4 linked regions of the Homo sapiens genome follow. The protein of the gene in region 4 purifies or fractionates together with the protein of the main gene of each other region. This does not show direct contact. Each region holds a gene or a part of one and is shown on either strand. Other genes may lie near its edges.

Region 1 (4,589 bases), on a different chromosome or scaffold from region 4:
TTTGTTACATGGCAAGGAAGAATTAAGGTTGCAAACAGAATAAAGGTTGCTAATCATCTCACTTTAAATAAGAAGATTATTCTGGGTTATCCAGTGGGCTCAGAATGATCACAGGATCCTTTAAATATGGGACAGGTAGGCAGAAGAGCATCACAGTAATGCAGAATGAGAAACACTCACCAACCAGGGGCCTGGAGCAGGACCAAGGGCGGCCTCTAAAACCTGGAAGACACAGGGGACAGATTCTCCCCTATGGCCTCCAGGAAGGAATGCAGCCCTGCTCACACCTTGATTTTAGGTGAGACCCACTTCACATTTGTGATGTACAAAACTAAGATAAATTTGTGTTGTTTTGAGCCAAGTTTGTGGTAATTTGTTACGGCAGCAACTGAAAACTAATACAGTATTAAAGAATTTGAAAAACACAATCCTTTTGAATCTACCCTAAAGATTTGGTGATAAAAACAGGCAGTTACATTATGGCACATACCACAATAAAATTTTAGCCATTAAAGTAAATCTTTCAAGAATGTATACACATGGATCAATATTCCTAGTATACGGACAAGGCAAGGTTAAAATTAGATATTGTGTTAGTCCATTCCTAAAAATAACCCTGGAGGGAAAGACATTCAAACATTGTATGTCCTTAATTCTAGATGGTGAAAATATAAGATTAATCTCCTATTTTCCAATTTTTCTAGAGATCGAAAATAATCAAAAGGAAAAAATGATGGAAAAATGGAATTCTCAGTTCATTTGAAGAATACAGATTAGCAATTAAAAAATACAGCAGTATCTCAGGAAATAAACATTATTCTCATTTTACAAAAAAGTGTATGTGAACTTTAAAAAAATCTACACTACAATATGAATTGATATTATCTCTGGGTAGAATGCTAACAATTTTATTTTCTCCTTTACTGTATTCACTAAATGTTTCACATTAAATGTTGTATTACCTTTGAAATCAGAAGATACATTGTCTAAAACTGATACATCAAGAAATAGTTGTATAAGCATATTACCTAAACACAGAGGTTACCAACAGAAATTAAAAGTGGTTAAAAATGACTCCTGGGGAACTGTAAGAAGAGGAAGGTGAAGGGAAGAAATGGTTGCTTTCCATTCTAAATCTTCACACAATCTATTCTTAAAATCAGACAAGGCTGTGGTAAATTTTTTCAATTATTAAAAAAAATTATTTCTTCTAATAGGAATAGGCCTTTGAGAACCCTATTAATTGTAATAGGTTTCAATTCAGTTAGTCACTCAAGTATTATAAAATGCAACTGGATTTACAGAAATAATTTCCTACCTACACTGACAGTATATTTAAACTAAAAAAAAAGCATACAATGTACAAACAAATTTATTTACAAAAATTACAATTACAAACTGTACAAATTGAGACAATTTCCCATGCCTCCAACAGAAGCCAAGAGCCTTTACTGTCAAATGGCAGTTTTTGTTACTTTTAAATGACACACAAAAAGAAATATGATGCCTATTCAGTCATCCACTGCCAGTTTAAAAATGCTTTTCTAAATAATTCCAAGAAGCCTATTAGTGATATGTATATGGATAATTTCCCTCAACTCTATTTCTAGAATGGCTATGTACAAATCCAGCAAAACTGGAACAGAACAGGGTAAGAAAGCACATAGCAACTGCTTTTTCAACAGTAAATTTTGACTATTCCCCTAAATATCTACCTAGTGGCTTAAAACTAAAACTATGGTCTTTGGCTTTAAAAAGAAAGTCAAAAAATTTTGACTTTTAATGACTGCACAATTCTACCAAAGCCAGTGTTTACCTGGGTATTTTTTGTCACCTGTAGTTTACATTTCCCTGCTACTGTTAAAGAAACAGAATTCTACAGTATTCAATTCTGTATATTGTCTTTTAAGGTTTTTCAATCAGACTCACTACTACTGCTTGAGGAGTCCGTTGACATAATCTCTACATCATCTTCATTTTCTTTATTATGCCCAGGAGGTTCCAACAAAAAGTCACTACTATGATTTGGTGGTAACATATTCATCGACATGTCATTTGACTGCCATGGATACTGTGGAGCAAGGACATCTGGAGAAAAAAAGAAGCATAGATAAGAACAGCTCTATCTGTAATTAATCTAGTTCTTACTTTTCCCTTTATGCAACAATTTGAAGTATTTTTTTTAATTTTACTTTTTTCTCTTCTTTTTTTGACACAGGGTCTCATTCTGTCACCCAGGCTTGAGTGCAGTGGCACGAATACATCACTGAAGCCCTGACCTAGGCTCAAGCAATCCTCCTGCCTCAGCCTCCTGAGTAACTGGGTTACAGGTATGTGCCACCATGCTTGAGTACTTTTTAAAGTTTTTGTAGAGATGAGGTCTCACTATGTTAACCAGGCTGGTCTCCAACTCCTGGGCTCAAGCTATCCTGCTACCTCAGCCTCCCAAAGTGTTGGGATTACAGGCATAAGCTATTGTGCCAATTTTTTTAAGACTAGGAAAAAAATACACATTTAGCCAAATTAATAAAAATCAAATTTATCAAGGAAAAGTTGATATTTTAGCAACTGGGGACTTTTTTAAAAAAATCATACTACTCTGTAAGAAACTATTTAGTCAGTTGACATAATTTTTCTTTTGTAAGACATTTGTAATTACAAATTTTTCCTGTATCTATGTATCTATTATATGCATATATAATACATACTTATGTATACTAGGTTATGTAGATTATTCTACATATTATAAACAAGTAATAGGTACTTTAGTATTATAATAGATTTGAATGATTTCTTGATAGAGGAACTGCTATTGTAAGTGACTCTCATCAAAGAGAGGTTGATTAGCAATGTATGCATATGAAATACCTTAAAAAAGGGCCCAAGTTACATTTAAAGTCTGTATTTCTGAAGCAAAGGGACAGAGCACATAAACAGGTATAGTTCAAGACTCAAATAAAGAAGGCAGATTTTTAAAGGGTCAAAAGAAAGAGTTATGGTATTAACTAGAAAGGTATGCCAGTTAGCCTCAAATCTACCCTTCTCTCTGGCCCCTGAAACCATTTCTCCTTTGCCAGCTGCCACAATTAAGTTTTGTCAGTAGAGGGCACAGGTGGGACTCCACTAGCAAACAAGTTTCACTTCCTGGATCAGGTGGTTTTGTCTCCTTTACTGCTGTGATGCCTGGTTGGTGTGCAGGACATTAAGTGGTGTTCACCACAGCAACTTTCGGTGGCGCCTCTAAAGGTGGTTTCCTAGCAGGTTTCACCAGAATCCCAAAGGGCAGCTTCCCAGCAAGTCTCCCTGGAACCCCAGTGGGTAATTTCCTGCTTGCCAGCTCTGGCCTCTGATGCCTCATCTAACTTCTCTGCCATGGAGTGGGCCACATTACACTGCACCCTCTCCAATGACAGCACCATGATATGAGAGTATCGGCCTTGGGATGGAGCTGGGGAAGACTGTTTTTAGGTCTGTCCCTTCCTTGGTCCAAAATGTGGCAGTGACTCCCCATATCTGTTTTTCCTGTACTTTTAAAACATGAGAAATATGAGGTGATATCCAAGGATATCACAGTTGAGTTCCCCTGGTTGTACTTTAGGTAGCTAACAAAAATGATGCATACAAAGCATTATTAATGACACAGGGACAGCCTTATGATGTAACATTAAGCAAAAAATGTATAGGGGAAAAAAGGAAACAGGCTAAAATATTTAAAGTGACTGCCTCAGAAAGGGTATATTTTTTTCCTTTTTTAAATGCCTTTTTCTACTTCCCAAATGTTCTACCACATCAAAACAAAAGTCACCTACAAACTATAAAAGATGAGGAATAATATAAAACAAATATATATAAAAATAGCACAAACCTATGAAAAACTTGAGGAAAACTGAAGCTCAGAATGAACTGGGTCTCACAGAAATACTATTTTATAAAGTTATAAAAGTTTATAAAAAGCTATTGTTATTCATTTTGTTAACTTGGGGGTTGTTCAGGAGTGTGTTCACTTTATTCCGTAAACTATCTTACTCTATTTACATAGCATGTTTCACAATTATAAAAAAGCTATGTTTAGAGCAATAATTTAAAAAGAGAGGCCAAATGCCTGAGGAAGACAGTGTAATATTTACAAATAAGAGAAAGGCAGCTTGTTCTAATTTCATACCTCCCTCAAGGAGAATCTTTAGAGCAGAATAAACCGGCAAAGAATCTAGCTATTACAATGAACTGGGTCTGAGAGGCAGGCACACTGGCTCACACCTGTAATTCCAGTACTTTGGGAGGCTGAGGCAGGTGATTGCTTGGGGTCAGGAGTTCGAGACCAGCCTGGCCAACAGAGCGAAACCCCATATCCACTAAAAATACAAAAATTAGCCAGGCCTGGTGGCACACACCTGTAATCCCAGCTACTCGGGAGGCTGAGGCACAAGAATCACTTGAACCTGGGAGCCAAGATTTCGCCAACACGCTCCAGCCTGGGTGACATAACAAGACTGTCTCAAATTTACAAAAAAAAAAAAATTGTGTCGGGAATCTCAAACTTGCTTTACCGCCAGATATTCCAACCTTGTCATCTCTGGAAAACCCTGATC
Region 2 (9,436 bases), on a different chromosome or scaffold from region 4:
TCCTTTGTGGCTACTGTTTCCTCCACGTGGCTTTTTCTGCTCTTCTGTCTTGTCTTTCTCTTTTTTCCTCTCTCTCTCTGTCTCCTCTCTTTCTTTCTTTCTTCTTTGAGACAGAGTCTATGTCACCCAGGCTGAAGTGTAGCAGTGCGATCATGGCTCACCGTAGCCTCAGCTCCCTGGGTTCAAGCTATCCTCCCATCTCAGCCTGCCCAGGTGCTGGGCTTGCAGACAGACATGAGGCACCGCGCCTGACCCGTGTCTTTCTTACCAGGGGGTTTCTTCCTATGCTTAGTGACCTTGGCCATCCACTCATATATTTAAGAATAAAACACTAAAAGGCTTAGTGGAAGCTCTGCAAATGAGTGATGCTTGTTCATTTTCTCAGAATTAATTGACTAGGCTTTTTTTTTTTCCAATGTCTTTTCTCTTAATTGGTCACGCACCATAGAGAGGGCACTTCCACTCTCTTTGGCTGCCAATCTAGAAGCCAGGTGGGGGAAGGCTCGGGTGGTGTCTCTCTTCAGACTGTGAACTTTCTCTTAATCCCTCTTTTCAGTATGGCTCCCCCTACCTACCCCTGCAGTGTGCCTGGTGTCCCACAGTCAAGGTACTCTCTGGCTTATTCCTTCCTAAGAATAAATCTCGGGAGAGTAACCTTTTAACCATCTGCCAAGTTGGAAGAAGGGTAGTCACCCGGCCGCTTGGAGGGGATGGGAGGTGGGACAGGACTGTGGGGACCTGCTTCTTAAACAGACTTCCAAGTAATCTTCCTGTTCTTAGACCCACCTTCACCCCTATTTCCAGGGGGTCCTTGCACTAGAGTTCCTGAGATCTGGGGATAGGCCATGGTTAACAAACCAGGTGCTTAGGAGTTGGTAGATGAATTAGCCCTGGTCATCCACTTTGTGGCAATCATCTCCTGTCCTATTCTTTTTGGTTTTATGCTTTTTATTTTTGACACAGGGTCTCATTCTGTCACCCATGCTAGAATGCAGTGGCATGATCTGGGTTCAAGTGATCCTCCCACTTCAGCCTCCCAAGTAGCCAGGACTGCAGGCACACACCACCATGCCTGGCTAATTTTTTTTGTATTTTTTGTAGGGACGGGGTTTTGCCATGTTGCCCAGGCTGGTCTTGAACTCCCAGGCTCAAGCGACCGGCTCGCCTCAGCCTCCTAAAGTGTTGGGATTACAGGCATGAACCACCATGTCTGAAGGTTTTATGCTTTTTTTTTTTTTTAAACTCCCTTCTCTGTCCTTTTAGATGGAACAGAGACAAGCACATGTGATCAACCCACTATGTTTCACAGGTACACTCCTGAGTACATCTCCCAACAATCCTATGACATAAGCATTCCCATTTCACAAGAGAAAAACAGGCTCAGAGAAGCTAAGCTACTTGCCAAGGTCACCCAGTCAGCACATTATAGAGCTATGACATAATCTGAACCTCTCTTTTGAGGTCCACTATGGACATATTAGAGATAAGAAGATTATGGCCTAGAAAGGTTAGGCATTTATATCAAGATTAGAAGGCAAGAAAATGTCAGTACACAGATTTGAACACAGGGCTGTCTAACTTCAAAGCCTGTTCTCTCTAGTATAACTTACTACTACATCTTTTAAGGCCAACCCAACCCAGCTGCTCTACCAGGGCTCAAGAATATACTCTTGGGGAGTTCAAGAGCTGTCCTTGTGAATGTGTACATTTTGTGTTTTCATTTTTCCACATTTTTCTTAAAACCAGTAAACTAGGGTTAATCAGAATAAACCCTTTATAATCCAGCACTGCCCTAGGATTACAGGGGCTCCATATGTATTTCTGTCTATGATCATTATCACAGGCTCACGAAAACTGAATAGGCTGCCTTATCCTATAAGCATTACTTTTTTTTTTTTTTTGAGGCAGAGTCTTGCTCTTGTTGCCCAGGCTGGAGTGCAATGGCATGATCTCGGCTCACTGCAACCTCCACCTCCCGGGTTCAAGTGATTCTCCTGCCTCAGCCTCCTGAGTAGCTGGGATTACAGGCAGCCGCCACCACACCCGGCTAATTTTTGTGTTTTTAGTAGAGATGGGGTTTTGCCATGTCGACGAGGCTGGTCTCAAACTCTGACCTCGTGATCCGCCCGCCTTGGCCTCCCAAAGTGCTGGGATTACAGGCATGAGACACCATGCCTGGCCCCTATAAACAGTATTTAAACACCAAGTGAAACCAAATGAAGCCAGGGTCTAATGTGAGAACAAAGCCTTTGTAGTTATTTGAAAAGTGGCAGAAGAGCATCAGGTCATCCCACAGCAAGTGAATCTAATTTGCTTAAACTCAAAAGTGGGTGGGCCACTAACAGTCAAGACCTTCACGTTGTAACAATTCCATTTCAGTAAAACAGTGAAGAGCACATTCATGTTCACCTGAATGTTACTGGAATCGTAATTTTCTTTTAATTTACTTTGTTTTGGTCTTTAATGGTTGAGTAAGAGTTACAAGCCTAGGGGTTTACACCTAGTATCACGTGGATATACAGTGAAGTAACATAATGAAAATAATTTACAGCCTGGGCAACATGGTGAAACTCCATCTCTACAAAAAATACAAAAATTCGCTGGGTGCCATGGCTCATGCCTGTGGTTCCGGTTACTTGGGAGGATGAGGTGGGAGGATGGCTTGAGGCCAGGAGGTTGAGGCTGCAGTGAGCCGAGATCACGCCACTGTACTCCAGTCTGGGTGACAGAGCGAGACCCTCTCTCAAAAAAAATAATAATTTAGGCAAACATAAGGATCAGTGAGACTTTTGTGTTTTTGTTTTTGGTTTTTCCTCTACAGAGTCACTTTGAAAACTCAGGCTACCCTGAAGGCTGGCCAAAAGGATGACAACAATTATTTCCTTTGGTACTGTTAGAACAAAGTCAGTACAAGTGGGTCTAATCATCTGAGGCAACTTCTGTGTTTCTGCTTAGTCTAATGTTTCCCATCGCCACCACTCCCGTCTCAATCTTTTTGAATTGTGGGTTATTCCCAATCATGTCTTTTTTTCCTTCTATCTAAACCTTTGGGGGTGAAAAGTTGGCCCCTTTTACTGCGTCCATCCCGTAGCACTTGGCACAGGGAAGATGATGCTTATCTGTTGAGTTTGCTGAACTAAGGAACTAAAGTGAGTATTACCAACATTAAAGGTGAGAAAACTGAGGCTTAAAGAGATTTAATTTGCTCAAGATCGCTGGGATGAACATTTGAGCCGCTGGACAAGAGTCTGCATTTAGTCTCTAAGCTGGCTTCATTCTTAAGGATATCGCACCTCTCGAGGCTCAAATCGTTTGCTTAACTCATGGAATGTCTCTGTGGTCTTGGGAAAGGCCTCTTCCCGCTCTGGGTCTGAGTTTCCCCATCTGTGAAACGGGGGCGTGCCCCAGAGCGCCAAGGCCTCTTGCAGCTCTGAAACGGCTGAGAGGAGAAGCTGGAGGGAGTATGGGGCCTGGTCCTCTCCTAGGTTCTTACCATTTGATGATGTTGTGAACCAAAGGTAAAAAGGAGTAGTTCTCTTCCTCCCTCGCGCGGGCAGGTGACTGAGGCCGTGGCGCCGGCGACTGCTGCGGTTGAGGCGCAGGGACCGGCGGCGGCTGAGGAGGCGGCAGCGGCTTGGTGTCAGGCAGCGGCTGGTCGGACGTTGGCGGCAATACATCCTCCGCCTGTCGCCCGGCTGCCACCCCAGCAGAGGCCATGGCTCCGGGGGTAGGTTAGCCAGAGGTCGGGTCGCCAAAAGCGTCGCGCACTCTACACGTCACCACCGCGCGCCCTGCAGGGGCGGGGTGTGGAGGAAGGCTCTGAGCGTGCGCACTGGGCAGTCGGCGGGAAAAGGCGCGGAGGCGGGGGTGGGGAGGCTGTTGCTAGGCAACGGGCCGTGGGTGGGTCTGGGGTGCCTGGATTTGGATTGTGAGTCAAGATTGCTAAATTATTAAATAGTGAGAAATAGGGGTTTATTTCAGAAATAACAATCTTTTTTTTTTTTTTGAGACGGAATTTCGCTCTTGTTGCCCAGGCTGGAGTGCAGTGGCGCGATCTCGGCTCACCGCAACCTCCGCCTCCCGGGTTCAAGCGATTCTCCTGCCTCAGCCTCCCTAGTAGCTGGGATTACAGGCATGCACCACCACGCCCGGCTAATTTTATATTTTTAGTAGAGACGGGGTTTCTCCATGTTGATCAGGCTGGTCTCGAACTCCCCACCTCAGGTGATCCGCCCGTCTCGGCCTCCCAAAGTGCTGGGATTACAGGCGTGAGCCACTGCACCCGGCCAGAAATAACAATCTTCTTATTCCTATTCACACGATGAAGAGGGCCCCAAAGCCACAAACACAGGAAGCCTTGAGATTAGTAAGGTGCAGCCTGGCCCAGTGCACCCAAGTCTGGAGAGGAGCCACTGGACCTGTGGGAGGCGTAGACAGCACTTACCTGCTGGGTGAGGCACCAAACCCGGCCCAGCCCACAGTGCAAGACATCGAGACCTCGAGTTTAGCCCTAAGGACGCAGAGGCAAAGGGATTGCGGTCCCTTCAATGCTGCAAGGTTGCTTAGAAAGAGTCTAATAATTCAACTCAACACACATTTAGTATGCACCTGCTGGATGGCCACCTGTATGTGTGGTTGCAGGCAGGCTGTCCTTGCTTTCAGTACAAGGTAGAGGGGATTGGTGCCAGGAGTAAATATCATATCCTGGAAGAACGACAAGGTCAGGTACTCTCCATACCTTCGGGCCAGTTCCCCAAGCCCCTAGGTCCCAGTTTCCTCACCCCTAAAATCATATTTAGTTCAGATTCATGGCACAGCCTAAACTGCATTCTAACTTCACATGCGTGGCTGACCCCAAAAGGTCTTGTTGGCATGAGGACTCCCTAGGATCATAGGCCAAAGATGGGTTTATGGTTATGCTTCTCAAAACAAGTTTGATATGAGGGCTGTGTAGTAATTTTCCGGGCAATGGGGACACCCACCCCAAGCTTAGCTAGTGAGTAGAAGACATGAGTGGGGAAAGCTGTCAACTGGTGAGCCCATTCTGCTGTAATCCACCATCATGGGCAGTACAGAGAGGCGAGGAGGTCCACATCCACATAGCATGATGAACAGGAGCCTTAAGAGCAAGGTGGCCAGGGAAAGGATCAATGCTGATATTTTCAGGCACATTGGGAGGGCTGTGCGGAGGCAGATCCTTGGGGAGTAGGACCATAGATGGAAGTGCTGTTGGAGGGTGCGCTGTACAGGTTCTGTAGTAAAGGGCCTCAGCACAGCTCTCTGCAGCAAGAGCTGCCCACGGTGCCCCAGAGAGAGAGCAAAGGGAGGGAGTGGGTTGCGGAGTTTTCTTCCTTCTAACCATTGACCTCTCCAACTAAGGGAAAGTTCAAGAGTTCTGGTTGAGCATGGAGGAGAAAAAGGCCAGATGTGCTTGAAGAGACTGTATACCCTTGGAGTCATCTGGGGAAAGATGATATAGTAATAGTAATAATAATAGTAATTACCACAACTACCATGGAGTAAAAGTAGATACAGGGAACAGAGTTACAGTCACTGTCTCAATCCACAGACAGAGGTCTAGAAGATGGATGTCAGGATCCCCATTTTCTAGATGAGAAAACCAAGACTTACAATGGTTAAGATCCCAGCCTAAGGGTCAACGCAGTTGCTGATGCCAAGTCTATGATCTTAACCAACACTAAAGAGACTTCGGATCCCTACCAGTTCTGTAACTTTATGATTCAAAATGTTAAAGTGGGTTTGAATTCAGAATTCAAAAACCAATCCAATATTCATCAATAATATCCCCATGGCAATCACACGTCATCTTTGCCCTCCCAGAGTGTTTTATAACTTAATTATGAGCCACAACTATATCATTGTCAGAAAAATGAGGATGCTTCTTAAAAGAAAAAACACTTGAGGTATAAATAGATATGGCTAAAGAAAACAGGTTGAAAACCTAGGAAGCATGAACCAGTATGGTGCATTGACAGTTTGCCCTAAAAATAGTTAATATAATTAGTGGCAAAGAGTAAAGCTGACTTCATAATGTTGCAAGCGGATGTCAGAAAAATACTGCCTGTGCTGGTTTCATTAAAGCTGAAATTGCCACAACAAATGTGTGTCTGTTTATAACCTGCTCTGTTAAAAGTCAGGAAAGACAGATGCTCCATTGATATGTAAGGACAATGTATTGTGGTGAAGGAAACTTCACCCCACCACAAGGGAAGCTCTAAGGTCATTGCTTTCTTAGGTGGATTTATGCCGTTTCTCACGGGGCCTTGTCCAGTTAGTGGTTACAAGGTCAGGCTTTGGAGGCAGCCGCCTGACTTCAGCCTCAACTCAGCCTCCTTGGAGCTTCGTGACTGGGCAATTGCTTAATCTCACTTCGTGCAGCCATGCCACCTCGCAAGACTGAATGGGCCATTACTTGTAAAGCACTTAGAGTAAATATCTGTGCGCAGTAAATAGTAATTCTTCTTGCTATTAGATTTAGGACTTCTTACTTCACCAATTAACAAAACCCAGACAGACAGCAGCTAAGAGGAATGATCCACATCACTGCCCTTTGATAAAAATGTAAGCCAAACATGCAAGCCGCAGAGGCGGTGTTCAGTTTTCTAGCAGCCATATTAAAAAATAAGAAAACAGGTCGGGTGTCATGGCTTATGTCTGTAATCTCAGCACTTTGGGATGCCAAGGCGGGTGGATCACTTGAGGTTAGCCTAGCCAACATAGTGAAACCCCATCTCTACTAAAAATACAAAAATTAGTTGGGCGTGGTGGCACACACCTGTAGTCCCAGCTACTTGGGAGGCTGAGGCAGGAGAATTGCTTGAAGCTGGGAAGCAGAGGTTGCAGTGAGCCAAGATCACACCACTGCACTCCAGCCTGGGCGATACAGCGAGACTCTGTCTCAAAAAAAAAAAAAAAAAAAAAGAGAGAGAAAACATAGGTGAAGCTAATTTTAATGATACATTTTATTTAACCCAATATGTCCAAAATATTATAATTTCAACAAGTAATCAATATGAAAATTATTAATAGGATATTTTACTGTTTTTCCTACTGTCTTTGAAACCGGGTGTTTTACACTCACCGTACATCTCAATTCCAGCAGTCACATATCACTGCTCAGCATCCAAATGTGGCCAGCAACTACAGAACTGGATGGTGCAGAGAAATGGATTCATATCAACATAGACAACACTCACATCATAATGGTGGAAATGGAGGAAAAAGCGAGTTCTACAATGGATATAGAGTATATTACCACTTATGCAAATGTTGAAGCATGAAAAATAACATTCTCTATTGTCCATAAATATGACACCTATGTAAATGTATTTGAAAAAGGAACTGGGGGATACACCTCACATGGATGGGACAGGGGACGAAGCAAGGACTGGGAATATAACAGGCACAGCAACTTTCTATGTGGTGTTTTATCTCTTGTATATGAGATAACTTGAAGTAAATAGGATAAATATGAACAACGGCCAAATAGAGGGGTGGGTGCAAGGGGGTTTGGCACATAGACTCCATGCTCTGCTCCTCTCTGGCTCTATGACGCTGGGCAAGTTATTTAACCTCCCTGAGCCTGGGTCTCCTCATCTGCAAAATGGAATCATACAGTACCTACCTAATGGGGCTGCTGAAACAGTTACAAGAGGGAATGCATGTCAAGAGCTTCAAACAGTGCCTGGCACATAGTAAGCATCTATGTGTTAGCTACTACTGCTACTTAATTTTTTTTTTTTTCAAAAACCCTGGAGTAATTATTCCTTATGCAATAAACTGCTACTACAAGAACACATACAAAAACCAGACTGCACCCAGAACTGAACTTTCAGATGCTCAAAGTGGACCCGTATCACACATATCTATGAATATTCTTGTGATACAAGAATTCTGCTACGTAAAGTCCAAAAATAGTCATGTCTCCGTCAGACAGACACCATGGGTCTTGTTAAACTGATCATGTCATCATATGATAGAGGGCTTTTTCATCAAAGCTATATTCTTACTTATGATTCATCCTTTTCTTTTCATAACCTGGAGCCTCAGGCAGGTGGAAAAAGCTACACAATACTTTGATTTTTGTGAGTTAAAAAAAAAAAAGGCAGCAATCATTGTTCTGGCCAAATGTAGTGCAATGTATACCAGGAATCAGCTCACTGAAGCCACGATTCATTGCATAAACCTCAGACAAAAGCCCTTTGCTTGGGTCCACCCTGCGGATTGTCTTTCTTCTCTCTCTGAGCTCCACTTGAATCTCCTTTTTATTCTTTTCAGCCGTCCTCTCCTAACTCTGAGATACTCCATTACGTTCATTTTCTCAACTCATTTCTGTTAGTGGTTTCATTTCTCAGAATCATTTGTTTTGGGGGCATTTCAGCATACAAATCCGACTGTATTTTTTTCAGACTGAGAGAATGTTCTCCTTGAGTCCTTTCTTTTAGTCCTTCTGTTTGTGATCTTTCACCAGATCTTCACCAGCTGCCCTTAAATTACCAAACAGCTTTTGATATAATACAAATGAGAGGCAATCCATTCCAGGAACTAGCTTTTATCAAAAATGGTTCATTATTGTTCTGAAGCCGTATTTTTTCCAATCTCTTTACTACATAATTTTCATCCAAATTATTTGTTAGCCAATTTCTTTTTCTGTTTACCAGCTGCTCCCCAAAAGCCTCAATCTTAACCCCTTCTGTTAATCCTTTTTTTTTAAAAATGCCCTTCTTCTCATGGTCATCTTTTTGTTTTTGTCACTCTTCCCCCCAGCTTTTTTTTTTTTTTTTTTTTTTTTTTTGAGGCAGAGTTTCACTCTTGTTGCCCAGGCTAGAGTGCAATGGCACAGTCTCGGCTCACTGCAACCTCCACCTCCTGAGTTCAAGCGATTCTCCTGCCTCAGCCTCCCGAATAGTTGGGATTACAAGCACCCGACACAATGCCCAGCTAATTTTTTTGTATTTTTAGTAGAGATGGGGTTTCGCCATGTTGGCCAGGCTGGTCTCAAACTCCTGACCTCAGGTGATCCACCCACCTCGGCCTCCCAAAGTGCTGGGATTATAGGCGTGAGCCACTGCACCTGGCCCGACTTTTCCCCTTTTCTAGAAGTTGTTTTGGGTTTCACTTTACTAGATTTATTGTACATCTTTGACTCTTAACTCCAGTTTCAAAATTGTAAATAAAACATTAGCCAGGCAGGAGAGTCGCTTGAACCCAGGTAGCAGAGGCTGCAATGAGCTGAGACTGTGCCACTGCACTCCACCCTGGGTGACAGAGTGGGACTCCATCTCTGGCTAAAAAAATTAGCCAGGCATGGTGTTGCTTGTAGTCCCCAGCTATTTGAGGGACCAAGGCAAGAGGGTTGCTTGAGCCCAGGAGTTGGAGGCTGCAGTGAGCTATGATGGCACCACTTCACTCCAGC
Region 3 (8,910 bases), on a different chromosome or scaffold from region 4:
TGGTGGGTAGCGTGCTTGTTGACTGAGCAGATATAACATGAGATGAGTGACTGCTCACACCATCCAGCTGCAGGGCCAGTCTCCGTGTACAGAAGTAGGCAAGCCGGCGGGACAGGTATGCAGACTGAACAAATTCCCCAGAGTACTGTGAAGACACGACCATCAGAGCCCCTAGTTCTCTCCAGGGGACCCTGCTCTAACATTTTATTCTTCCTCAAATTCTTCTTAGACTCCCCCTGCCCCACCAGTACCAAAATTCCAAGCCTTACTCGGAGAAGCAGAGGCAGCAGCAGTTTAAGCAATTCATCCTCTCCAGGGCGGATCTTCTCAAAACACTCAAGCACCCAGGTCAGGAACTCATGTCTGTCCAGCATTCCATCCTATGGGTACCAGGGGAGGGAAGAGGGGACTATTAGAGATGAAGCAGATAAAGTAAATGAAAAGATGAAGAGAACCACAACTGGGGCAAGGTGGCAGGCAGATTCTGTTCTCTACTGGCAGAGTACAAGTTCAAGCTCAACCCAATGCCCCACACAGCATGCCCTACTCTCTACCTGAAACATGAACATGGCCAGCTTCTCGGTGTAATCCCACTGCCGGATTGCCACCTCTACATCATGGGGCAAGGGCCCTATCGTGGAACCACAGCCCCCACTTCCTGCAGGCCCTGGCCGGTAGTATTCAGCCATCTTCTGTAACTGCTCCCATAAGTACTTGGTGATGATCTGAGTCCATTCTGGAGGAAAGAGGGAAAAAGGGCTATTTGATACTATCCTTCTGCTTAGAATATCCTTCTACTGGCTGGGTGCGGTGGCTCATGCCTGTAATCCCAGCACTTTGGGAGGCTGAGGCAGGTGGATCACGAGGTCAGGAGTTCGAGACCAGCCTGGCCAAGATGGTGAAACCCCGTCTCTAGAAAAATACAAAAATTAGCCGGGCGCAGTGGTGGGCGCCTGTAATCCCAGCTACTCGGGAGGCTGAGACAGGAGAATCACTTTAACCCGGGAGGTGGAGGTTGCAGTAAGCCAAGATCCTGCCACTGCACTCTAGCCTGGGTGACAGAGTCTTGCTCTGTCTCAAAAAAAAAAAAATCCTTCTACTTAGAATACCTTACCCCCACCCCTAATCACCATATTTGTAAATTCAGTTCATCCTTTTAGTCTCTAGTCAAATCCCACCTTCCTAAAGCCTTTCCGGGTACCCCCATAAGAAAGTAATCTTTTGTCCACTCAAAGAACCTTCTGCTCCTAGCTTGACATTCACCACTTTCTATATTTAATTATGTTATTTGTACATATACCTTAGCAGCCCTGTTAGACTACTAGTATCCTAGGGGCAGAGATTATGCACCGGACATCTTTGTAGCCCAGTATATGCGCACAGTAGACACTCAAATTTCTCAGTGTTTACTGATCAAACAAATGCAAGAAACAAGCAGAAACAAGGAATCTAGATTAAGAAGGAGGATGGTTCCAAGGGTGTCTCTATCACTCCTTGAAGCCATCAGCAGTACACCTGGTGTTAGGAGTTACTCACCCATGAAAGGGTCAACATGTCTCTTCTTAACCTTGGTCTCAGAGATTGCTGCATAGTAGGCACAGGTCATCTTAATGAGCCAGGCAGCCCGCATCACAGGCACTGTGTATTTGGCTAAGTACCCAAACACCTCTTCCTTCTTACTGAAAATGGGGACCTGGATGGACATTGCAAATAGTGAGGTCTCTATTATCCCCATGAGCTGACACCCATGTAGCTTAATATGGGAATAGGAGGGTACTTGGTACCCCATGCTCCCTCCTTGGCCTGAAGGACAGGAAACAGTACCTTACCTTTTTGGCTAGTTGCGTGAGTGGCTTGGTGCCAGCCAAGTCAGTGAACCAAGTGTTAATGGCACTCTGGGATCGTGCAGTCACCAGCCAGAAGTTATCCTTCTGGTTCACTTGGGGCTTCCTGCGACCAGTGTCAGGAAGGGTATTACAACGTAATTTCTCTGCAATAATGCTGCTGAAGTTGGAACTGATCTGAGGGAAGAAAAGTGTACCTCAGGGTGGGAAGAAGGGGCAGACAGGTGGTCCTGCCTTTTGCTGGGCAAATGCCAATGAGATAGTATTAGGTCATGAAGGCAAACTCAGCCACTTAGGTTGTCCCTATAAGTCTTCCCAACCCAGGGCCTTTGCTCCTTCTTAGATTCTTCCAGCCTTTTCCTTCAGCCTGGCAGAGTTGTCTCACCTTGGCAGGATTGAAGCTGACGTTCTTGGCACTGCCATGCTCATCCCCAGAGACAGCAGGCTGGTTATTGAAACCTTGTTTTACATTCAAGGCCGTCAGTTCATCCTGAGGCAGGAAAGCGGCGTTTAGTTGTTTTTTCCTTAGGGGAAGGGGGAAGGGGTGGGAGAGTAGGGCAGGAGAAAAGAAGGAACAAGGTGAAAGGGCAGGAGGAGGGTTCCGTGTAGAACAGATCGTTACTTAAAGCTGGGCCCTTACGTTCACTTGGACCCCACCCTCACTCCCATGGTCACTAGGATTCCCAGCCACCCAGCGCGCCCTCAAACATCACTCTTCTCTTGCGAACAGCCGAGCAGCCGTACCCCACCAAGCTGTCTCAGACAACTTTCTGAGGTGTGTGTGGAGGAGGGCGCCTCTGGTGCGGCCCCTACACCACCCCCTATTCATACCTTGGAACCCCCCACCGCCCCCCGTCCTGCCCTCCCACGCCAGCCCACTTTACTCTTCCCCCTTTCGGGACTTTTGCTCTCACCGAACCGCCCCGCCCCCCATTCCCAGCCGTCAGTGCCTCCTCCTAGGCTGACCGCGTGCCCCCGGCCCCTCCAGAGCCCCGATTTTCGAACGCACCTCCTTCTGTTTGGGGTCCTGAGGGTAAACATCGGGAGGCCCCAGCCGCGGCCGCTTCAGGGGCCGGTGTTCGTAGCTCAAGATCCCGAAGGCCGCCATCTTGCCCAGCCCGTAGCGCCGGAGGCACCAGCAGGGCCAGGCTGACTGGGGGAACGGGAAGGGGGAGAGGGAGCCGAAAAGGGGGGCGGTGGTTGAGAGGACGGCGGCCGAGAGACAACAAGGGGGCACGTTAGAAACTCTCGACCATTGCCGGAAACTACCGAGGGAAGCCGAGGTACGCCGGGAACCATCGGACAATACCGACTGCAGAGGAGGTGGGGCCTGGCCCGGTGGGGGCGGAGCTCTGTGCCCCGGGAGTTTTTCGGCGGTGGCGGCAGCAAGTCGATTTCACTCAGCAAAAATCTATGAAACGTTCCGGAGGCGCAGAATGAGCTGGGGATGCAAACCAGGGAAGAAGGAGGCCTCTGTGGTGCTGAGTTCTGACTGGACTTCGGTTCCCATAGCCTAGCTCGGTTTTGGCCTAGAAAAGTCTTCAATAATATTTGCATTGGTTAGGAACTCCGTCTATTACAGATCAGTTCGTTTCTTAGTTCCGGCATCTGAAAAATAGGTGCGCTAACACCTCCTTCAAGGGGCTATTGTGAACATTAGAAACTATGTATGCATGAGAAAGAACCTATTAAACCCTGAAAGGCTGGCTCTAATCCCTCAAGGTCTACCATCGAGTTGTCTAACCTTTTCTTGTTTGTTTTTCTGCCCAAGGGTACCGCATACTAACGTTTTTGATTCACAAACCCTTAAAGGTGCTGATGAAAGCTATGGACCTTCTTCCCAGAAATAATAATAATAATAATAATAATATGCATATATTGACATGCAAAATGTTGCTTTAGATTCTTAGATCCCCTGAAGTTCATCCATGTATCCCCTAAGGGTCCATGAACTCCAGGTTAAGAACCCTTGGTCTAGCTAAAGAGGCACCTATTGTGTCAGATGCTTTTCAGACACTATCTCCTTTAATCTGCTCACAGCCTCATGAGTTAGGGATTATTATTGGCTCGATTTTGCGGATGGAGGAAGCTGGTTTTCAAAGTGTGAAAATTCACTTATCCAATATTATACAGCTACTGAGTAACAGAGCTGGCACTAAGATTCTGAATTCCAGAGCCAATATCCTATTGTCGTATTGCTATTTGTTTATTTTGAGGCAGGTTCTCCCTCTGTCGCCTAGGCTGGAGTGCAGTGGCGCTATCACGGCTCACTGCAGCATCAACCTTCTGGACTCCAGCGATCCTCCCGCCTCAGCCTCCCAGTAGCCTGGACTACAGGCGTGCGCCACTGTGCCGGCCTTGTATTGCCTTTTAGAGAAAAGACAGCCAGTGTGCTGTAACAAAAGTAACAAATAACAATAAACAAAAATAACACCAGTAACAAAAATAACAAAATGCTATTGAATCACAATGGAAAGAAGAAGTAATTCAAGGCGGGGAGTGGTGGCTCACGTCCGTAATCCCAGCACTTTGGGAGGCCAAGGCAGGGAATCACCTGAGGTCAGGAGTTCAAGACCAGCCTGGCCAACGTGGTGAAATCCCATCTCTACTAAAAATACAAAAATTAGCTTGTGTGGTGGCAGGCGCCTGTAATGCCAGCTGCTCAGGAGGCTGAGGTAACATTTGAACTAACTCTGAAGGATATTTTTATTTTATTTTATTTTTTATTTTATTTATTGTTTTGAGACGGAGTCTCACTCTTGTTGCCCAGGCTGGAGTGCAGTGGCGTGATCTCGGTTCACTGCAACCTCCGCCTCCCAGGTTCAAGTGATTCTCTTGCCTCAGCCTCCCCAGTAGCTGGGATTACAGGCTTGCGCCATCATGCCTAGCTAATTTCTGTATTTTTAGTAGAGACGGGGTTTCTCCATGTTGGCCAGGCTGGTGTCAAACTCGTGACCTCAAGTGATCCGCCCACCTCGGCCTCCCAAAGTGCTGGGATTACAGGCGTGAGCCACCACGCTCAGCCTGAACGATATTTTATTTATTTATTTATTTATTTATTTATTTATTTATTTATTTTGAGACTGAGTTTCGCTCTTGTTGCCCAGGCTGGAGTGCAATGGCGCAATCTCGGCTTACTGCAACCTCTGCCTCCCTGGTTCAAGCGATTCTCCTGCCTCAGCCTCCCGAGTAGCTGGGATTACAGGCATGCACCACCATGCCCAGCTAAATATTTTTTTGTTGTTGTATTTTTAGTAGAGACGGGGTTTCTCTATGTTGGTCAGGCTGGTCTCGAACTCCCGACCTCAGGTGATCCACCTGCCTCCACCTCTCAAAGTGTTGGGATTACAGGCGTGAGCCACCAACCTGAAGGATATTTTTAAAAAGATAATTTTTCTTTTCTTTCTTTTTTTTTCTTTTTTTTTTTTTTTTGACAAGGTCTCACTCAGTGGCCCAGGCTAGACTGCAGTGGTGCAATCTCACTTCACTGCAACCTCTACCTCCTGGGCTCAAGCAAACCTCCCACCTCAGCCTCCCAAGTATCTAGGATCACAGGCGCTGGCCACCACACCCGGTTAATTTTTGCTTTTTTTTTTTTTTTTTTTTTTTGGTGGAGACAGGGTTTTGCTATGTTGCCCAGGCTGGACTTAAACTCCTGGTCTCTAGCGATCCACCCACCTCAGCCTCTGAAAGTGCTGGGATTACAGGCATGAGCCACAGCACCCAGCATAAAAGAATTTTTTAGAGCAGTTTTAGATTCACAGCAAAATTGAGAGGAAGGTATGGAGAATTCCCATATACTGTCTGCCCTCACACATAGATAAACTCCCCCATTGACATCCCCCACCAGAGTGGGCCAGGCATGGTGGCTCATGCCTGTAATCCCACCACTTTGGGAGGCCGAGATGGGTGGATTGCTTGAGCCCAGGAGTTCTAGACCAGCCTGGGCAACATGGTAGAACCTCTATCTCTCCAAAAGCAAAATAAAACATTAGCAGGGTTTAGGGGCGGGCGCCTGTAGTCCCAGCTACTCTGGAGGCCGAGGGGAGAGAATCACTCGATCTCAGGAGGTGGACGCTGCAGTAAGCCATGATGACCCCACTGCACTTCAGCCTGGGCAACAGAGTGAAACTCTGTCTCAAAACAAAACAAAACAAAACAAAACAACAACAACAACAACAACAACAACAACAAACCCACCAGAATGGTATATTCGTTAGAGTTGATGGACCTACCTTGAACATCATTACCCAAAGTTCATGGTTTACGTTAAAGTTCACTCTTGATGTTATTTTATACAGTCTGTGAGTTTGGACAAAGAATAACATGTGTCCACCATTGTAGTATCTTACAGAATATTTTCACTGACCTAAAAACTTTTTCTGCTCCACCTATTCATCCTTCCCTCTCCGACAACCCCTGGCAACCGTTGATCTTTTTACTGTCTCCATAGTTTCGCCCTTTCCAGAATGTCATATAGTTGGAATCCTATAGTAGGTGGCCTTTTCTGCATGGCTTCTTTCACTTAGTCATATGTATTTAAGTTTTCTCCCATGTCTCTTCACGGCCTTAATAGCTCATTTCTTTTTGCACCGAATAATATTTCACTTTCAGGATGTACCACAGTTTATCCATAAACCTACTGAAAGACACCTTCGTTGCTTCCAAGTTTGGGCAATTATGAATGAAACTGCTATAAACATCCGTCTGCAGGTTTTTATGTGAACACAAGTCTTCCACTCCTTTGTTTTTTTTTTTTTTTTTTTTTTTTTTGAGACGAAGTTTCGCTCTGTCGCCCAGGCTGGAGTGCAGTGGCGCGATCTCGACTCACTGCAAGCTCCACCTCCCGGGTTCACGCCATTCTCCTGCCTCAGCCTCCTGTGTAGCTGGGACTACAGGCACGCGCCACCATGCCCGGCTAATTTTTGTATTTTTAGTAGAGACGGGGTTTCACCGTGTTAGCCAGGATGGTCTCGATCTCCTGACCTCGTGATCCGCCCGTCTCAGCCTCCCAAAGTGCTGGGATTACAGGCGTGAGCCACCGCGCCCGGCCTCCACTCCTTTGTTAATACCAAGGAACATGATTGCTGAAAGAGTATGTTTAGTTTTATAGGAAACTGCCAAACCGTCTTCCCCAGTGGCTGTACCGTACCATTTTTGCATTTCCCCCAGCAACAAGTGAGAGTTGTTCCTGTTGCTCCACATCCTTGCCAGCATTTGGTGTAGTCCGTGTTCCGGATTTGGGCAATTTTTTTTTTTTTTTTTGAGACAGGGTCTCACTCTGTCACCCAGACTGGAGTGCAGTGGTGCAATCTCAGCTCACTGCAACCTCCGCCTCCCAGGCTCAAGCAGTTCTCCTGCCTTAGCCTCTCAAGTAGCTGGGATTACAGGAATGCGCCACTATTGCCTGGCTAATTTTTGTATTTTTTAGTAGAGACGGGGTTTCACCATGTAGGCCAGGCTGGTCTTGAACTCCTGACCTCAAATGATCCACTCACCTTGGCCTTCCAAAGTGCTGGGATTACAGGCATGAGCCACCATGCCCGGCCTCTTTTTTTTTTTTTTTTTTTTTTAAACAAGAGATGGGATCTTGCTGTGTTGCCCAGGCTGGTCTCCAACTCCTGGGCTCAAGCAACCCACTCGCCTCAGCCTCCCAAAGTGCTGGGATTTCAGGCAAGGTGTGAGCCACCTTGCCCAGCCCATTTTGGCTATTCTAATAGGCATGTAGCCCTGAAGGATTTATTTATTTTATTTATTTTATTTTTTAGGCAGAGTCTTGCTCTGTCACTCTGGCTGGAGTGCAGTGTGCGATCTCAGTTCACTGCAACCTCTGCCTCCTGGGTTCAAGTGATTCTTGTGCCTCAGCCACCTGAGTAGCTGGGACTACAGGTGAGTGCTACCAAACGTGGCTAATTTTTGTATTTTTGTAGAGATGGGGTTTTGCCTTCTGAAGGATTTTAGCCTACAGAAAGTTAGGAAGAGGCTAATTCCAGAGAAAGGAAATGCGTATGACATATCCAGTGTGGCTGGAATTGATCATTGGAGCTTGGGCTTTATTCTGAAGGCCATGAGTAGCTTTTGAAGACTTTTAAATTGGAGAATGCCCTCTGTAGTGGGTTGAATGTGGCCTCCAAAAAGATATGTTCACTTGGAACCTGTGGATGTCACCTTCTTTGACAAAAGGCTTTTAGCAGCTGTAATTAAGGCAAAGCTCCTAGGAGAGAACACCCTGGATTAGGGTGGGCCATAAATCCAATGACAGGTGTCCCTGTAAGAGAAGAGAAGGATAAAGGAGATGCAGAGAAGAAGAAGAGGTAATGCAAAGATGGAGGCAGAGATTGGAATGATGTGTCTACAAGCCAAGGAGCACCAAGGATCGACGGCAGCCACCAGAAGCTAGAAGAGAGGCATGGAACAACTTCTTCCTCAGCGCCTCCAGAAGGGACCAACCCTGGCCACACTGATTTCGGACTTCTGGGCTCCAGAACTGTGAGAAAATAAATGCCTTTTTTTCCTTTTTAAAAAATTTTTATTTATTTATTTATTTATTTATTTGAGATGGAGTCTCACTCTGTTGCACAGGCTAGAGTGCAGTGGCGCAATTTTGGCTCACTGCAACCTCTGCCTCCTAGATTCAAGCGATTCTCATGTTTCAGCCTCCCGAGTAGCTGGGATTACAGGTGTTGCCACCATGTCTGGCTAATTTTTGTATTTTTAGTAGAGACGGGGTTTCACCAGGTTGGCCAGGCTGGTCTCGAACTCCTCAAGCAATCCACCTGCCTTGGCCTCCCAAAGTGCTGGGATTGCAGGCGTGAGTCACTGCACCCAGCCGAGAGAATAAATTTCTGTTGGTTTAAGCCACTCAGTTTGGGGATAACTTATGGCAGCCCTAGCAAACTAATACATACTAAAGATACATACTAAATACTAAGCTGGGCCATATAGTCCAGTTTTCCTGAGACTCCCAGGCAAGTGCTGTTTTTCTTTGCTTAATATCCTACACCACTTTCTGTCTGGTAAAATTACACTCATTCTTTAAGATGCCACTGAAATAGCACCTCTTCAG
Region 4 (8,682 bases):
GTGTCAGCCATGCAAGGCACCACGCTCGGCTAATTTTTGTATTTTTAGAAGAGACGGGGTTTCGTCTTGTTGGCCAGGCTGGTCTCCTGGTCTCAGGTGATCCACCTGCCTCGGCTTCCCAAAGTGCTGGGATTAAAGGTGTGAGCCACGGCGCCCGGCCAACAAAAGAACTTTTTAACAATATTCCTTTATCGATCAAATTTTTAAATGTTTCTAACTGGAAAAATGCAGTCTTGAAATTTGTAACCATAAATTGTCATGTGCGACTTCTTAATAATGAAGAAAATTTATTTTATGAATTCTTGCTTGTATTAAAAAGTTCAGAAATATTCTGAACTTGTTTCTCTTCAAGAGTAACATTTGGCTGGGTGTGGTGGCATGAGCCTGTAATGCCAGCACTTTGGGAAGCCAGGAGTTCAAGACCAACCTGAACAACACAGCAAGACCCTGTCTGTAAAACGAAAAAACAAAAAAAGAACAACTTTTAAACCGGATTTTTTTTTTTTTTTAAAGTAAAAGAGAGTTGGAGGTCCAGCATGATGGCTCACACTTGTAATCCCAGCATTTTGGGAGGCTGAGACAGGAAGATCACTTGAGCCCAGGAGTTCAAGACTAGCTCTGGCAACACAGCAAGACCCGGTCTCTACAAAAAATATTCAAAAGTATAAATATTAAATAAAAAGGAGAGTTGGGTCAAAAGCCTCTCTTCCTGCAAAACAAAAAGGTGAACAAATAACTTTTTTTTTTTTTTGAGACAGAGTCTCGCTCTGTCGCCCTGGCTGGAGTGCAGTGGCGGGATCTCGGCTCACTGCAAGCTCCACCTCCCGGGTTCACGCCATTGTCCTGCCTCAGCCTCCCGAGCAGCTGGGACTACAAGTACCCGCCACCATGCCCGGCTAATTCCTTTTGTATTTTTAATAGAGACGGGGTTTCACCATGTTCACCAGGATGGTCTCGATCTCCTGACCTCGTGATCCACCCGCCTCGGCCTCCCAAAGTGCTGGGATTACAGGCGTGAGCCACCGCACCCGACCCAGAGAATATTTTTAATTAAAGGTGAAAAACTCAGATGTAAATCTTGCATTTCCAGCCTCTTATAAATTTGTGATATAATTAATATTGCCTAAAGTCATACTTCAAGGGAAATAACATTTTGCTAACTGTAGTATTAAACTTTTCTAATGATATTTTATTTCTTCTAATGTTTCTTCTAAAGACCTGAACAATGTTTTGGTTATATACTACATTATATATACCAGAATCATTTATCTTTAATGTAACCTATGTGATTTCTGGCTCCCTAAAATAGCATTATGCATTTTCTGAGTTAACCAAAATAAAATCTAGAAAGAGCTAAACTGTAATCTACCATGATCGGAGTGTAAAATCCTTTACTATGCAAATCTGCCCACTGTTTAAAACAGTAAAAAAAAAAAAAAAAAAAAATTTAACATGAACCCAAAGGACACAGATGTTCTTTCAAATTGCTGGTATCAATGAACATAAAATTAATCCCACTACCAACCCACAAGAGACGTGGGTGTTTACTGTAAAGTTGCAAATCTCAACCAGATCTTTCATCCAGGAAAAAAGCCTTTATTACGGTTTTTCTTATACGTAATACAGTGATTTAAACTAATGCTTTCAGATCCTGAGAGGTTTTTTTTTTTTTTAGAAAAAAAGCATTATATTTTGAAGACACACAAACTAATCTTACTCTAGTAAAGAAGCTTTATTAATTCTAATTAACAAATTTCACTCAAAAAGGAAGTGTATTCGAATCAAGTACTTTATTAGAGGGGAAAAATATTCAAAAAGAATAGAAGCAAGAATTATCTGGTTTTTGTTGTAAGCCCATACTATTCAAATACAATTCAGAAGCAGAATTTTTAACTTCTCAAAAGTTCCCTAATAAAAGAAAGCTATTTTAACAAAAAAAACACTAAGATACATTTTTTAAAACCAAAAGTATACCACAAAGTTAGCATGAGGAGTATGGGAAAAACCCACCTCAGATTTATTAACAATGTCCAAACGGAAAACTGGATGTGCTTTCCCCAAATATAACTGATAAAATTCCCACAAGAACACTAGTATAACAGGTGGAGTGGATATTCCAAAACCAAAATATGTTAATTATAGTATCTCACATTCCATGATAAGCATTCAAGGACACCTGGTAATTAAAGGAATTATGAGAAACAACTGAGTACCTTAAGGCCTGTTCAGTTACAAAAGAAAAAAAAAATTCTGCAATAATAATAATCCTTTACACTTGGATAGCACTTTGCAATTTTCACGATACCTTATGACAAAACACTTTATAATAGAGTTGTTTTATGAAGTTAGTGCATACGCACACAACGTACTTTAGTCCTAGAGTTCATATACCAACCACATCAAATTATAACAGCACGCACAAAGATAAGCGGCACTTCAAATTTTACTAATGTCATTGTGGCTGATCATCACTTTATTCAGAAATGGTCCGTTACAATCCTCTTCCGTAGAGTTTGACTCTCTTTAAAGTCTATGCTGGACAGGGCATCTTCCTGGGTCCCTAGCTTTGGGGGAGGGTAATTCCTGCCAGGAAGCTGGTTCCACCAGTCCTGCTGTAGCTGCTGTCTGCCCTCCAGGACCAAGAAAGGACAGGTATTCTCAGTACATTATCCAGCTCTTCTTAAGAGGACAACCAGTAAAGGCTTCCCAAGGTGTTCCTACAGTTCTCCCTCAACTCCTAGGAAAACAAAGGTTCAGGCCCAGCTCTGTCACTTCGTATTCCGTTCTTGATAATATAGGTACTCCATAAGCCCCAGCCCACAGTCATCTGGCAGAGGATGGAGTGGAGGACATAATACCCAAGATACCCAAGGGGCTGCAAGGTAAAGGGTGGGTAGCAGAGAATTCAGCCAACTCTTAAGTTGCCGCTTGCGAAACGCAGCTAGCCCATCAGGTCTCCTTCGAAGGGGGAAGGTACGCAATTCAGAATGTGAGAATGAGAAACCCGGGACGCCGGGCATACAACAGGGATGGGAGGACTGCATAGAGAAGCCAACGGGCCGGCCAGCCCGAAGGGCGGAGATCGCTGCTGGGGGCGGCGGTGCCCAGCGGGTCAGAGCCGTGGGGCTGGCGAGGACCCCAGGCCGCGTTCGCCCGACAGGCTCCCCGGCGAGGTTTCAAACCGCCGCCCCCGCGAGGCGCTCAGCCGATTGGAAGTTCCACAACGACCGTCACTACCCAGGGCCGGAGCGGCAACTCCGCAGCGGAGCTCTGCCTGCCCGCTGCGTTCCCCCAAGAGACTAGACCCCACAAACTCCTCCTCCACCGCGGTCCCAACTCGAGTCCCCCCGCCGTCTCCGAGCACTCGGAGGGCGCCCCTCTGGGACGGGACCGACGCCTCGGACCGGGCTGCGCCGCGGGAGTTCGAGGTACGCGACGGGGCCGCGCGGGGGAGGCGGGCGGAACGGGCGCCCCTCGGAGTCGGTGTCCGGACGCAACCCCGCGACCCCCTCCGCCTCGCCCCTCGGGCACGGCCCGACTGGGATCCGACCCACCCATCCCGCCAGGTCGCGGGCAGGGCGAGGACCCGAGCGAGCCTACTCCTCCCGCCCCTGCTCTTACCCATCTTTCCGCCTCGCCTTGTAGACGTGACCGTAGGTGCCGCGTCCCACTTTGCACCCTTCGTACTCAAACAAATCCTCCACCCGCTCCCGCTCCGCCGCCAGCTTCGCCTTGAAATCATAATCCATTGTCTGCTTCCCCCATAGAGGCACGGGACGCGGGGGCCGCCGCCGCTCAGTCCCTCCTCCTCCTCCCCCCGCGACCGCCGCTCCACTTCTCCAACAGCCGCCTCTCGCGCGCGCGCGCGCGCCGCCCGCCGCCCGCCGCTCCGCGGTCCGCCTTCAGCAAGGGACTCCTCGGCGGCCACAGCAGCCACCTCCTCCACCTCTTCCTCCTCCTCCTCCGCGACGGCGGCGGCGGCTCCCGCAGGCACCCCCAGTCCCGCCTCCCTCCTTCATTTCCTTGTTTTGGAACCTGGTGGGCCGCGCCGTGGCTTCCTCGAGCTCATTAGCGAACTCACTGGCCCGCCCCATGGTCGCGGAGGCTCCTGGGAAATGAAGTCGCGAAGGCCTCAGCGGCCTGGGCGGTTTTGCCGGCGTAAGAAATACAGCTCCCAGGTTACCTCGGGCCACCACAGCCTCGCCCCCACAAAGCATGCGCGCCTGCGTACCAGGGCCGCCCCTCCCCCTCAGGTAGCGCACGGCTCCCGGTTCCTGTGAAGGTAGAAAGCTCGAAGTTCCAGTGTGCTTTCTGCGGTTCTCGGGGAGACACTGGAAAGAAGTGCCTTACTCTAGTGGGAAGGGGATACTTCACTGTAACTAGCCCCACGCAGAGAGTATGGAAAGCATTAAATCAGCACCTTGCTGAAGGGTTGGCTGCAGTGACTCGGGAGGCGAGGGCTGGTGAGGACAGTTGTACCGCAGCTTGTTTCTTTTCTAGGGCAGTGGGTCCGCCTATTGCCCCGCCCCCCGTCCCGCTGCTCATTGGCGGGGGCTGGAGAATGACGTCCTCGTTGGTGCGTGGGTATCCCCAGGCTTTGGCTTCTTTCCCGCTCTTGATTGGTGATTGGATGTGCTCGGTTCTTCCTGATAGGTTGATCTTTTTTCTTTACGATGCAAAAACCGTATTTCAAAAACTGAACCTTCAGCAGTTTCCTAGAGCCTGCCTTGGCCAGAGGAGAACATGCAACTTCTGAGCCCCAGCAGCCAATCATCATTTTCTTGGCGCTGTAGTCAGCTTTCTCTTAGCATATGCGGTTCCCATAACCAGGCTTTGGCCATCTGTCTAAGGACAATTAAAAGTGCCTGGAGGAAGCCGCGTTTACGATCCTTTGGGTTGAATTGTAAAGGATTTTTTATGGTCTATGCATGATGTGAGGTTCTAGAATGTTTAAGAAAGCCCCTTTAGTTAGGGTGAACGTTGATTGATTTCATTGTGTTGGGGCTCAGGACACACTACCCCAAATTATAACTGAAGGAGTCCAGAATATGCCACCCCAAAATACGCCACTCTGGCATATTGATGTCTTTTAGCAAAATAAATTAAGATCCAGCCAACACAGGAAAATGCTTCACTTATCCCACTACTGCCTAAAATAAAGAATAACTCTTCCTTTGTAAAGAGAAATTTACATTTCTAAAGGAAATTTTCGTAATTAAAGGAATCTTACCAGAAAGAGAGCTGCTGCTAGTCAACTTGTATCATCTGAGATACTTTTATCTGCATAAAAGTCAACCTTTATTCACCTTAGACATTTTTTCCTCTTATCCTCTCTTAACTTGTCTCCACCACTCCTGGAAGCCCCAAACCCCACTTTTGTTTTGAAGAGACTGGCCTTGCTGTGTTGCCCAGGCTGGCGTCCAACTCCTGAGCTCAAGGATCCTCCTGCCTCAGACTCCTGAGTAGCTGGGATTACAGGTCCGTGCCACCATGCCGGGCCCCACTTCCTTTTTGAGGTCAGGATGTAATATAAGTGTCAAACATCTGGCCCTTCTTTGAGTCTCATATTTTGTGGGACTCTTGTGCATACATACGTAATTAAAACTTTTTCTCCTGTTAACCTGACTGGTATCAATTTAGTTTATAGACCAGCTGAAGAACCTAAGAGGGTTTCCTCCCCTGTAATGGTGAGCCTAATGTCCCAAATGTTTGGGATACACACTTAAACATGATTGGTGCTAGGATAGGACATAACACATTCATTAGGAGGACAAAGAAGGGAATTGTCAATTCTACCCAAAGTGGTAGATAAGGAAAGAATAGTGAACTGCCTGCTAGGTTTTGAAAGAAACTTGGAAAACTAGTGGGAGGGGGAATGATTTACCTTATTTGCTACATCACCCACTCCTGGAAAACTTCCTTAGACCTTGAGTCTCTTCAGGCTGGGTGCAGTGGCTCACACCTGTAATCCCAGCACTTTGGGAGGCCAAGGCGGGTGGATCACGAGGTCTGGAGTTCAAGACCAGCCTGGCCAAGACAGTGAAACCCTGCCTCTTATTAAAAATGCAAAAATTAGCCAGGTGTGGTAGCATGTGTCTGTAGTCCCATTTACTCGGGAGGCTGAGGCAGGAGAATCCCTTGAACCCGGGAGGCAGAAGTTGCAGTGAGCTGAGACCATGCCACTGCACTCCAGCCTGGGCAACAGAGCAAGACCCCGACTCAAAAAAAAATGGTATCTTTAATCAAGAAAAATCTCAGTTGCTCTTGTTGCCATGCACTATAATAACTGCTGGAGATAGCAGGAAAAAAATTAGTCTTTTTCCATTGGGGAATTAAACCTGAAAAAACAAATATGCAAGCAAATTAAAAATAAACTGTGGTTTAAAAGAGCACTGGTAGAATAGGCGGGGTTCTAAGTGAGTCAGGGTAGACTTCATGAAGTAGGTAGGTTTGAGCCAAATTTTTTTTTCACTCCAGCCCCATCTGCTGAGTGAGAGCCAAAATTTAAAGCATGAGTAAGCCTTTACTTGAAGGACAAGTCGAAGAGCAAGAAACAAGGAATTATTTCAGGTAGAACAGCATGTACATAAATCATGAGAGAACATCATATATTCTGAGAAATGCAACTAGTTTGAATATTACAGATTAAGACAGGAAAAAGTAATGGATAAGAAAATACTAAACAGATAAGCAGAGGTCAAATTATGAAAAGCTATTTATGTCAGGGAGAGGTTTTAGGTTTCATTATTCTGTCGACCTAAAAGGAAAAAGCTGGGGCAAAATTAATATAAGTAGAGAGTTTATTTGAGCCAAGCTTTAGAATTGCAACCCAGGAGTATAGATACAAGTTGCCCTGAATGTACACTCCAATCAGGAGCAGTTGCAAGTAGATTTTTAAAGGCAAAAAAAGGGGGATAGGAAGTGGGCTCAAAGTTGTTTGTGAGGAATTCTCATTGGTTTACAGGAATAACATTGATTAATGAATGAGCTATACATTGTTAAGATATAGGGTGTGGGTTATAGCATCTGGTGCAGCATTATTGGATTAATTTGTAGCTACTTGTGGCAATAGCAAGCATTTCAGGAGATGAATACATAGCTCAAGGGGAAAGTATCACCTGATTCCAGTATCTTATTTATATATATATTTATTTATTTATTTATTTATTTTGAGACAGAGTCTTGCTCTGTCACCCAGGCTGGAATGCTGTGGCGCGATCTCACCTCACTGCAGTCTCTGCCTCCTGGGTTCTAGTGATTCTCCTGTCTCAGCCTCCTGTGTAGCTGGGATTACAGGCATGTGCCACCAAGCCCAACTAATTGTATTTTTAGTAGAGACAGGGTTTTGCCATGTTGGCCAGGCTGGTCTTGAACTCCTGGCATCAAGTGATCCGCCCACCTTGGCCTCCCAAAGTGTTGGGATTATAGGCGCGAGCCTAATTCCTGTATTATTTTAATGTCTCTCTGTGCCTTATAATTTAAAAGGCCTCACATTCCTCAAATGAAAGTTTTTTTCTTTTCTCAATTCTGTAGGCAATAGGAAGCTATTACACACTTTTGAGCTAAGGAGAACTATAATCAGCCCTGAGTATTAAGCAAATTCTCTGACAAAAGTGTTCAGGTTCAATTGGAGGAAGGTGAGACTAGCAAAGAAGCTATTGCAATAGGACGGTAAAAACAACGATCTGGGCCGGGTGCAGTGGCTCATGGCTGTAATCCCACCACTTTGGGAGGCCGAGGTGGGCGGATCACCTCAGTCCAGGAGTTTGAGACCAGCCTAATCAACACGGAGAAACCCCGTCTCTACTACAAATACAAAATGAGCCGGGCGTGGTGGCGCATGCCTGTAATCCCAGCTACTCAGGAGGCTGAGGCAGGAGAATCACTTGAACCTGGGAGGCAGAGGTTGCAGTGAGCCAAGATTGCACCATTGCACTCCAGCCTGGGCAACAAGATCGAAACTCTGTTTCAAAACAAACTAACAAACAAAAAACAAGGATCTGAACCACGGAAGAGCAGCACTATAAGAAAAAAGCACATACTATAATTATTTAGGAGTAAAATTTAACAAGACTTAGTAATTAATTAAATGTGGGACTAAAGGAGAGGGAAGAATCCAAGATAACTTTGAGAATTTTGACTTCAGCAATATGGTAGAAATTTCAGAAAGTTAGGAAACACAGGAATGGGAGCAATTTTTGAGAGAAAGATAAGCTTGGTTGGGGCATGTCGAATTGGAAGTACCTATGGGGGCATCAAGATAGAAATAACTGTCAGGCATTTGAACCACAGTGACTCCATCTTGAATAGGGTAGAATAAGGCTGAGACCTGCTGTGCTGCATTCCCAGGAAGCTAGGTGTTTTTAGTCACATGGTGAAATAGGAAGCCTGCACAAGATACAGATCATAAAGACTCCACTGATAAGATGCAGTAAAGAAGCTAGACAAAACCCACCAAAACCAGGATGGTGACCTCTGGTCTACTCACTGACCCCTGGTCTCCTTGTTGCCCATTATATGTTAGTTATAATGCATTAGCATGCATTATAGGAGACATCCTACCAGTGCCATGACAGTTTACAAATGCCATAGCAACTTGAGAAGTTACCCTATAGAGTCTAAAAAGGGGAGAAGCCCTCAATTCTGGGAAATCCCCATGTCTTTCCCAGAAAACTTGTGAAT

Evidence for each region.
Region 1: the proteins of CDK19 (region 4) and MED4 purify together in Homo sapiens (affinity purification with mass spectrometry; 9 studies listed by BioGRID and IntAct, with this or other methods). This does not show direct contact.
Region 2: the proteins of CDK19 (region 4) and MED9 purify together in Homo sapiens (affinity purification with mass spectrometry; 9 studies listed by BioGRID and IntAct, with this or other methods). This does not show direct contact.
Region 3: the proteins of CDK19 (region 4) and MED12 purify together in Homo sapiens (affinity purification with mass spectrometry; 12 studies listed by BioGRID and IntAct, with this or other methods). This does not show direct contact.

What each region holds. Positions count from the first base shown.
Region 1 is NC_000013.11:48,075,224-48,079,812, forward strand, and holds the end of MED4 (mediator of RNA polymerase II transcription subunit 4), read right to left. Parts: exon of another isoform or gene 4,554-4,589; intron 2,331-4,553; exon of another isoform or gene 2,219-2,330; intron 2,129-2,218; exon of another isoform or gene 2,089-2,128; coding exon 1,916-2,088; 3' UTR 501-1,915; downstream 1-500. UniProt on the Homo sapiens protein: Component of the Mediator complex, a coactivator involved in the regulated transcription of nearly all RNA polymerase II-dependent genes.
Region 2 is NC_000017.11:17,471,323-17,480,758, reverse strand, and holds the start of MED9 (mediator of RNA polymerase II transcription subunit 9), read right to left. Parts: upstream 3,760-9,436; 5' UTR 3,718-3,759; coding exon 3,494-3,717; intron 1-3,493.
Region 3 is NC_000023.11:71,112,797-71,121,706, reverse strand, and holds the start of MED12 (mediator of RNA polymerase II transcription subunit 12), read right to left. Parts: upstream 3,112-8,910; 5' UTR 2,953-3,111; coding exon 2,854-2,952; intron 2,335-2,853; coding exon 2,230-2,334; intron 2,022-2,229; coding exon 1,830-2,021; intron 1,694-1,829; coding exon 1,537-1,693; intron 737-1,536; coding exon 555-736; intron 381-554; coding exon 270-380; intron 146-269; coding exon 1-145. UniProt on the Homo sapiens protein: Component of the Mediator complex, a coactivator involved in the regulated transcription of nearly all RNA polymerase II-dependent genes.
Region 4 is NC_000006.12:110,811,388-110,820,069, forward strand, and holds the start of CDK19 (cyclin-dependent kinase 19), read right to left. Parts: upstream 4,083-8,682; 5' UTR 3,750-4,082; coding exon 3,622-3,749; intron 3,429-3,621; exon of another isoform or gene 3,230-3,428; intron 1-3,229.